2 separate regions of the Homo sapiens genome follow, and region 1 is linked to region 2. The links come from fine-mapping of genetic effects on gene expression. A gene starts in region 2. The other region holds a variant in brackets. All regions are shown on one strand. Distances are from middle to middle.

What was found. PIP is the estimated chance that this variant, and not a neighbour inherited with it, causes the effect.
Region 1: its variant is the best candidate, but not a certain one, in a credible set for the expression of SELENOT in whole blood (INTERVAL, PIP 0.68).

The regions. Positions count from the first base shown.
Region 1 is chr3:150,578,552-150,582,948 of GRCh38, reverse strand. It overlaps EIF2A (eukaryotic translation initiation factor 2A), which reads right to left. Exons shown (of 14, transcript NM_032025.5): 12 at 1,203-1,331. All of the region lies in intron 1 of LOC124900547 (a long non-coding RNA gene), which reads left to right. Among named protein-coding and RNA genes, the nearest start is that of SELENOT, 23 kb to the left of the region's middle. The variant G/A (reference allele first, on the strand shown) is at 2,245.
Region 2 is chr3:150,601,130-150,605,526 of GRCh38, reverse strand. SELENOT (selenoprotein T) reads right to left here and starts at 2,206. Exons shown (of 6, transcript NM_016275.5): 1 at 2,028-2,206. The coding sequence starts at 2,164. It overlaps LOC124900547 (a long non-coding RNA gene), which reads left to right and starts at 2,344. Exons shown (of 2, transcript XR_007096128.1): 1 at 2,344-2,583. RefSeq lists enhancers at 1,748-2,047, 1,322-2,095, 2,068-2,217, 2,338-2,417.

The DNA.
Region 1 (4,397 bases), 23 kb after region 2:
ATAAATGTATCAGTAATGGCACATTTCAATGCCCCATTGGACCTGGGTGATGTTTCTGGCTTTGAGAGAAATCTCAATGAGAGCATTCTGAAAGATTGTTGGTCCAAAGTCCTGCCCGATAAAAAGTGAATGAAAGAGAAACCTCATAATGCAGCTGTGAAGGGCTCTAGAGACCTTTTTTTATCCCCAGGGCCACCCCAGCACACTGGCTGCAATATCACAAATCAATACACTTCTTTTTTGTCTCTGTCTCTTCATCTTCAAAACTAGGATAAATATCTGCCCCTAATTATCACAAGGTATCTAATGAAATACTGAGTATAAAAGTATTGAGTGACCAGGTGCAGTGGCTCACACCTGTAATCCCAGCACTTTGGGAGGCTGAGACAGGCAGATCATGAGGTCAGGAGATTGAAACCATCCTGGCTAACACGGTGAAACCCCGTCTCTACTAAAAATACAAAAAATTAGCCAGGTGTGGTGGCAGGCGCCTGTAGTCCCAGCTACTCGGGAGGCTGAGGCAGGAGAATGGCCTGAACCCGGGAGGCGGAGCTTGCAGTGAGCCGAGATCGCGCCACTGCATTCCAACCTGGTCGACAGAGCAAGACTCTGTCTCAAAAAAAAAAATTAAATTAAATTAAAAAGTGTTCAGTGGCCAGGCGAGGAGGCTCACAAATCCCAGCATTTTGGGAGGTCGAGGCGGGTGGATTACCTGAGGGCAGGAGTTTGAGACCAGCCTGGCCAACATGGTGAAACCCTGTCTCTACTAAAAATATAAAAATTAGCCAGGCGTGGTGGCGCACACCTGTAGTCCCAGCTACTCGGGAGGCTGAGGCAGGAGAATCGCTTGAACCTGGGAGGCGGAGGTTGCAGTGAGCCAAGGTTGTGGCACTGTACTCCGGCCTGGGCAACAGGGCAAGACTCCGTCTCAAAAAAAAAAAGTGTTCAGTATATTTCTATGCTGATGCACACTGAATTTTATTACTCCAAAAATCAAAGTACTAAGAGTCTTCAGACATTTATGAATAGAACTAAAATCAATACCATTCCTAAGTGAACAGTGCTTCATAGTGAGAAAACAACAATGAGAACTGCTGATACCAACTTCTTAGATACCTGTCTTTAGGCATCTAAGTACTCTCTTACTTATATAATTTTCATGTATACCTTTCAATATGCACATCTGTTTTTAAGTCTCTCACCTTCTTTAGGTTCTTGATTTTTTTGTCTATCTCAGGGTCCCCAGAAATTGACTGAGAGACAGTGTTTCGTGGTGTGCTCTGTGGGGCAGGAGTAGGTGCCAAATCTGGACTCTTGTCACTTCTTGCTTCCTGCAGGAAATATTTTTTTAAATTCAATTTTAAAAGCCAAAAACATTACAGTATTTAAATCAACATAGCTTTGGCATATGAAATACAGAAACTAAATATGTGATTTTATCTACATTTTATATAAAGAATCTGAATTAAAGGTCTCATGAAGTATGCTACATACTCCCATGTTAGAAATAAAATGACCTTATCAGAGTAAACCAGGAAGTTTCTGTACCAGCCAACAAGCATTCCAAACTTTTGCATATTCTGAGATGTGCCAGTAGATAGATGGTTTGAACATATGAGAGGGCTTTTCTATTTAAGGTGTTTAAAGTTTCACTCTTACAAGGCTCTCTCCAAAACTATAAAGAATATGTATGATCAAGTACCTGTAATGGATTATGCTACAAGAATAAGAATCCTACAGATATTAATTTATAATCAGATCAATTCAGCTCTGCAACAAAGTACCACAAAACTTTTTTCCCCTTAAAGGGATGCCATAATGCTTCCAATATGATCAGACCTCTGATAACTTTTCTTGTCCCTCCTCACTGATTCTGAATCACTTTTATTTCCGCTAAGGTGCTGTATACTCTTGCCCCTGGCCTTTGTGTACAGCAGTCTCCCTTAACCATGGTTTCAGTAACCAAGCGTCAACTGCAGCCCAAAAATATTACATGGAAAATCCCAGAAATAAACAATTCATAAGTTTTAAGCTGTGTGATGAAATCTCTCAGCATCCTGCCTAGAACGAGAATCATTCTTTTATCCAGTGTATCCACAGTGTATTCGCTCCCCACCTATTTTTCACTAGTAGCTGTGTTGGTTATCAGATCGACTGTCACAGTATCAACAGTAGTTGTGTTTAAGTAACCCTTATTTTACTTAATAATGGTCCCAAAGTGCAGAGTAGTGATGCTGGCAATTC[G/A]GATATGCCAAAGAGAAGCCGTAAAGTGCTCCCTTTAAGTGAAAAGGTGAAAGTTCTTAATAAGGAATAAAAAATATTGTATGCTGATTTGCTATGATTTACAGTAAGATTAAACCTATCCATGAACTTGGGAAGAAGAAAAAAGAGATTAGTGCTAGTTTTGCAGTTGCGCCTTGAACTGCAAGTTATAGCCGTGGTCATTCAACTTACCACACAAGCATTGTACCATCTCACATTGTCGCAAAAAGGGTGAATACAACACCATTAGATATTTTGAGAGACCATATTCACATATCTTTTATTACAGTATATTATTATAATTGCTCTATTTTCTTATGAGTTACTGTTAATCTCTTACTGTGTATCACAGTCTCTATAGGGTTCGGTACTATCTGTGGTTTCAGGCATAGCTCTGCCCCTCCAGGATAAAGGGAGACTACTATATATTGTTCCTTGTGCCTAGAACACCTTCCCCCACAAGTCACCTGGCTGAACCCTACTTATCCTTTAAGTCTTCTGGAAAATCTCCCCACCTTAAGACTGGATAGTCGCACCTTTCCCAGGCTCTCATAATGCCCAGTATTTTTCCCTACGGTAACACCATATTCTACCATTCCCCATTAGAACTGAGCCTCTAGCATAATACTTGCTTCGTTGCACAGGCTAAATAAATAAAAAATAAAGGAATGACTCTTCCTTTATAATTATGACAAGATATATATTTTGGTAAGAGGGGAAAAAATTATGTAAGTATTTATTGGCTCCAACGTAGGGTTTCTACTTCTTATAGAATTTCCAGTGGAATATATATATAATGCTCCAGGTCTCCATAACCTTTTACTCAGAGTTCTGGGTAGGATACTCTGAACTTTTAAAGCATCCTCAGATCCTCAGGGAACATAGAATAGGGTATCACTTCTAGATATTCAACTCTAAAAGTCTGCCTAAGAGTTTTTAGAAAATACAGAATTGAAGTCAATTTTTCTCTTTTTTTTTTTTTTTGGAGACAGAGTCTAGGCTGGAGTGCAGTGGCACGATTCCAGCTCATTGCAACCTCCACCTCCCGGGTTCAAGCGATTTTCCTGCCTCAGCCTCCCAAGTAGATGGGATTACAGTTACAGGCACCTGCTACCACACCCAGCTAATTTTGTATTTTTAGTAGAGATGGGGTTTCACCATGTTAGACAGGCTGATCTCGAACTCCAGACCTCAGGTGATCCACCCACCTCGGCCTCCCAAAGTGCTGGGATTACAGGTGTGAGCCACTGCATCCAGCCAATTTTTCTTTTTAAAGTCATGTTGGTTTCACTTTTTGGTACTATTTAATAAACAATTATTTACCTTCTACATGAAAACAAATTACTGGGCACTTTGAGAATTCGAAAGAAAATATTAAGTTTCTCCTCTTAAGGAGCCTGTAAGTTCTGGTAATAGGCAGTTTTATATTTTTCACAATATAAAATTAAAGTAGAAGAGTAAATAAAAGAAGAGGGGATATTCTGCCTATCAAAATTCACTTTTGATATCAGATTTTAAAAATATAAAATTTTAGTTGTTTGTAATGAGCTAAGAATATAGCTCTCTAGGAAGAAAGGTTAATCTTATCATGTGAAAAACCATTAAAATTAAGTGATATATAAAATTTATTTTTCCCCACAAACTAACCAAGAACAAGTTGAAATGTCTGCATTATTATACTTAAATTCTAGCCATTCTCTAGAAAGGACGTATATATGGTAAGATTAAATTCTTATGTTTCAACTCTTTTTTGGTAAAGTCAACAAACTTATAAAATTATCACCAGTTTACAAAAATACTAGTTAGATTACATATATCTGACTGCTCTATCTTTGACTATTTACTTCAGAGTCAGGACTAAGAAGGTCTGGATAAGGTGAGATTCTGTCAAGGGCCATTTAGCTTTGTTCCATCACACAGCCACAACTTTTACTAACTTCAGCCAGTCGTCCCCAAAATACATACTGAATAGTTTATCTTGCAAGTTGAAAACCTTTGCTATTACTGGAAAAACAACTCAAAAAGCAATTCCACAATGAGGGATTACTGGTATCACCTTTGGTATCATCTTTAGTAAAAAACGTGTGTAGGTGCTTGATGACTGTATTGGCTCTTTTAAAAAAAACTGACAGGTA
Region 2 (4,397 bases):
TTGGGACAGGTCTGTACTTAAAAACAAAGAAAAACAAAGTATCAAAAGTTTAACTGAAGTACTTACTACTTTTTTTTTAAGTTTAATTTGAAGGACTGAATGCCCTTCCCTACGTTTGTTTACACATTTTGAAAACCTTGCTATGAATAGCCTTGGTGGAAGATACACCTGGTAAATTATTGTGACAAGTGTTCCAAAAAAAGCAAACGTAAAAGGGGTATTTTGGAAAAGCAAAAATACAACCAAGAGATAAAAGTAGGATACAGAAAAATTAAATAATTTGAAAACTGCAATTTTTTAACACTTAAATCCGTAAGTATCACAACCCTTAACAATCTTTAGGTTAGTAAGATGATTACCACCTTCTAATTTAAAAATTAAGGAAAAAAGTTAATGGATAAACCATTCTCCCATTTGCAGTATTACATGAAAGATGATATATTCCAGAAACATAGTACATTGTACAGGGAGGTTTTTTTTTTTTTTTTTGAGACGGAGTTTCGCTCTTGTTGCCCAGGCTGGAGTGCAATGGCGCGTTCTCGGCTCACCGCAACCTCCGCTTCCCGGGTTCAAGCGATTCTCCTGCCTCAGCCTCCCAAGTAGTTGGGATTACAGGCATGCGCCACCACGCCAGGCTAATTTTTGTATTTTTAGTAGAGATGGGGGTTTCTCCATGTTGGTCAGGCTGGTCTCGAACTCCCGACCTCAGGTGATCCGCTAGCCTCGGCCTCCAAAGTGCTGGGATTACAGGCGTGAGCCAGCGAGCCCGGCCTTGTTTGTTTTTAATCAGGAGAAATTGCAATGTTTTAGTTTTCACTCAAAAAAATAAAGTCTCACCATCTTATTTTCTAACTCAAACATCACCTTAAGCCGATTTTTAAAAATTATTTTAAAGGTTTGCTTGGTCTTCAGTGAGTAAGTAAAAAGCTAGTTGGAGAAGTAGAAAATCAAAACTTTAATATACTAATACATGAAGTTCTTAAAAGAAGGTTTTAAATGAATGATGTCCAACACCAACATTCCAATGTATCCGGACTCTGATGATTTACTAATCTGGCTATTCTGGGATGGTCGGTTTATCCTGAGAAAATGTCATCTTTGGAGGTGTAAGATTCTCATTTCTATAATTTTACAATTTTGGTGTTTTTTCCCCCATCTTCAGAGCCTTTCAATCCCCACCCGCAACCCCACTTACCGTATAAAATGCATCATTGCCCTGCTTCTAACGATTAGGTTAAAAACAAAATCATTTAAAGAACACTGTCGAAAACTGCCGAGATCTGCTGGATACACAAGACAACTGAAAGGTAGAAAGAGATGCCAGAGCAGGCAACTCCTGGGAGGCAGGTGAGGAGGGAATGCGAGCGAACTGTCAATGTTTAGAAGAACAACGTGCTCCTTTTCTGACACTTTGGAAATGGCAAACAGAACCAGCATCCCCAGACCTTCCTTCCACCCCCTCCAGCTGTCAGACGCCCCATTCGCAAACTCAACAGTCCCCCCAGCAAGTTCAGGAGAAAAACGGCGTCTGTCACTCCCGGATCCTCTCCAATGACCCGAATTAACCTTCATCTAGCCAGGCAGCGAAGCCGCCCGGCATTACCCCGGAAAAGAGGGCAGAAAAAGTGAACTGACAAACGGTTGGCGCTCCTCCGCCGACGCGGCGCCTACTCATCCCCATCTCCGCAGGCAGCCGGGGTGGCTATGGCGTGACGCCGCCAACCAGTCCTCCGTACTAACAGGTGTCCCCCAGTCTTCGCCTTTCAGCGTTTAACCTTCTCGCGCCCTCCTTCCCCATTCCCACTGTTCTAGGAGGCAAAAAACAAGTGAGCAGTTATACCTGGAAAAGGAGGGCGGCCTGACCGCGCTAAGGGGCCGCGAGAAGGCTGGCTGTGGAAGGGCGCCGGCACAGTTCTACGAGGCCAGCGAAGATGCGGCCATTTAGGCCGCGAAGCCGGGGCCTCGCGTAGCCAATGGCGCCGAGCAGAGGCGCGGCGGGGTGGCCGGGGCCCAGTGCACATACTCACCAAATCTGGAACTTGAGCAGCGGCCCCGTGGCGTACTGCATCTTTAATCTCTTGCTGGGCACGCCGCCCAGATTGGCCGAGGCCTCGCTCCGGACCATCGCAGACGCCGCCACTAGGAGAAGCAGCAGAAGCCTCATCTTAAATGAGCCAGCCACTTCGGCCGCCCTCAGACAGACTGCAGCCAGCCCAAAGCCCAGGAGCGAGCTGCTCCCCACTGCGCAGGCGCGATCAGCCAAGGTCGGGGGAGGGGAGCAGTAATGCGCCTGCGCGGCCCGGCGCCCGCGCACACTCCTGGAGTGAAGAGCCGACCTGTTTCACTGTCCTGACTCACCACCATCTTGGTAGTGTGCAAGACTCTGGGACGGCATGAGAAAGGCAGAAAGGGAGCAAAGGAGCTGGTGGGGTGTCACAGGGCCTATGTATGAGGCAGATGTGAGTTCTGCATCCAGTTTTGCAATTTATCCATTTACCTGCCTGAGACTTGGAAACACCTACTTTATAGTCCTGATTCAAGTGTTGGCGGATGGAAGGGAGGAGACTCCTGACCCTCAGAATGGTAATGCTGAAATTTTTTGGGTGCGCTGTTATGGCCTTTTCTTTGATCTTACAATATTGCTTTCTCCTGAAAGAATATTAAACATAAGTTTTAGGAAACCTTTGGACAATTCCAAACATATCCAAAAATAGAATAACTACCTTAGCAAGCTTTAACAGTTACTATACATTTTGACAATCTTGATTTGTCTATATCTCTAAACACTTCTTCCCTTCCTAGGCATATTTGGAAGCAAATCTCAGACATCATATCATTTCATCTGTATATATATATTTTTAAACACGGTCTCACTGTCACCCAGGCTGGAGTTCAGTGGCGTGATCATAGCTTACTGCAGCCTCACACCCCTGGGCTCAAGCAGTCCTGCCTCAGCTTCCCAAGTGGTTAGGAATACAGGCACAGGCAACTATGCCTGGCTTACAATTATTTAAGCACATATTTCTAAAAAAGAATTATTATTAAAAAGAAAAAAAATTGACCACAGTGTTTCACATGTCCGTGTGAAGAGACTACCAAACAGGCTTTGTGTGAGCAACACAGCTGTTTATTTCACCTGGGTGCAAGCGGGCCGAGTCCGAAAAGGGAGTCAGCAAAGGGTGGTGGGATTATCATTGGTTCTTATAGGTTTTGGGATAGGCGGTGGAGTTAAGAGCAATATTTTGGGGGCAGGGGTTGGATCTCACAAAGTACATTCTCAAGGGTGGGGAGAATTACAAAGAACCTTCTTAAGGGTGGGGGAGATTACTGATCAACAAAGTACATTGATCAGTTAGGGTGGGGCAGAAACAAATCACAATGGTGGAATGTTATCAGTTAAGGCTATTTTCACTTCTGTGGATCTTCAGTTGCTTCAGGCCATCTGGATGTATATGTGCAGGTCACTGGGGATATGATGGCTTAGCTTAGGCTCAGAGGCCTGACATTCCTGTCTTCTTATATTAATAAGAAAAATAAAACAAAATAGTGGTAAAGTGTTGGGGCAGCGAAAATTTTTGGGGGTGGTATGGAGAGATAATAGGCGATGTTTCTCAGGGCTGCTTCGAGCGAGATTAGGGGCGGCGTGGGAACCCACAGTGGGAGAGATTCAACTGAAGAAAGATTTGGGGGTAAGGGGTGATATTGTGGGGTTGTTAGAAGGAGCATTTGTCGTATAGAATTATTGGAGATGGCCTGGATGCAGTTTTGTATGAATTGAGAAACTAAATGAAAGACACAAGGTCCGAATAAAAGAAGGAGAAAAATAGGTATTAAAGGACTAAGAATTGGGAGTACCCAGGACATCCAATTAGAGAGTGTCCAAGGGGGTTCAACGTTGTTGTCTGCTTGGTTGGAGAGTTTTTGGGCTCTATCTCTATCCTTAAGTTTTTTTATGTTGTCATATACCAGGCCAGATTGATTTAGGTAAAAACAACACTCTTCATTTAAAAATATACAAAGTCCTCCTTTTTCAGCAGTGAGTAAGTCGAGGCTTCAGTGATTTTCAAGGAAAGAGAGGAGGTGGGAAGGCCAAACTGAGGAATTATGTCTGACAGAAGGGAAGAAATGACCGCGGTGGCCTTCTTAGACCCTGTGGGAAAGGCCTCTACCCACCCAGTGAAATGTCTACCCAAACCAAGAGGTATTTTAGTTTCCTGACTTGAAGCATGTGAGTAAAGTCAATTTGCCAGTCCTCGGCGGGGCAAATCCCCGAGCTTGATGTGTAGGGAAGGGAGGGGGCCTGAACAATCCCTGCAGGGTAGTAGAATAGCAGATGGAACATTGAGAAGTGATTTCCTTGAGGATAGATTTCCACGATGGAAAGGAAATGAGAGGTT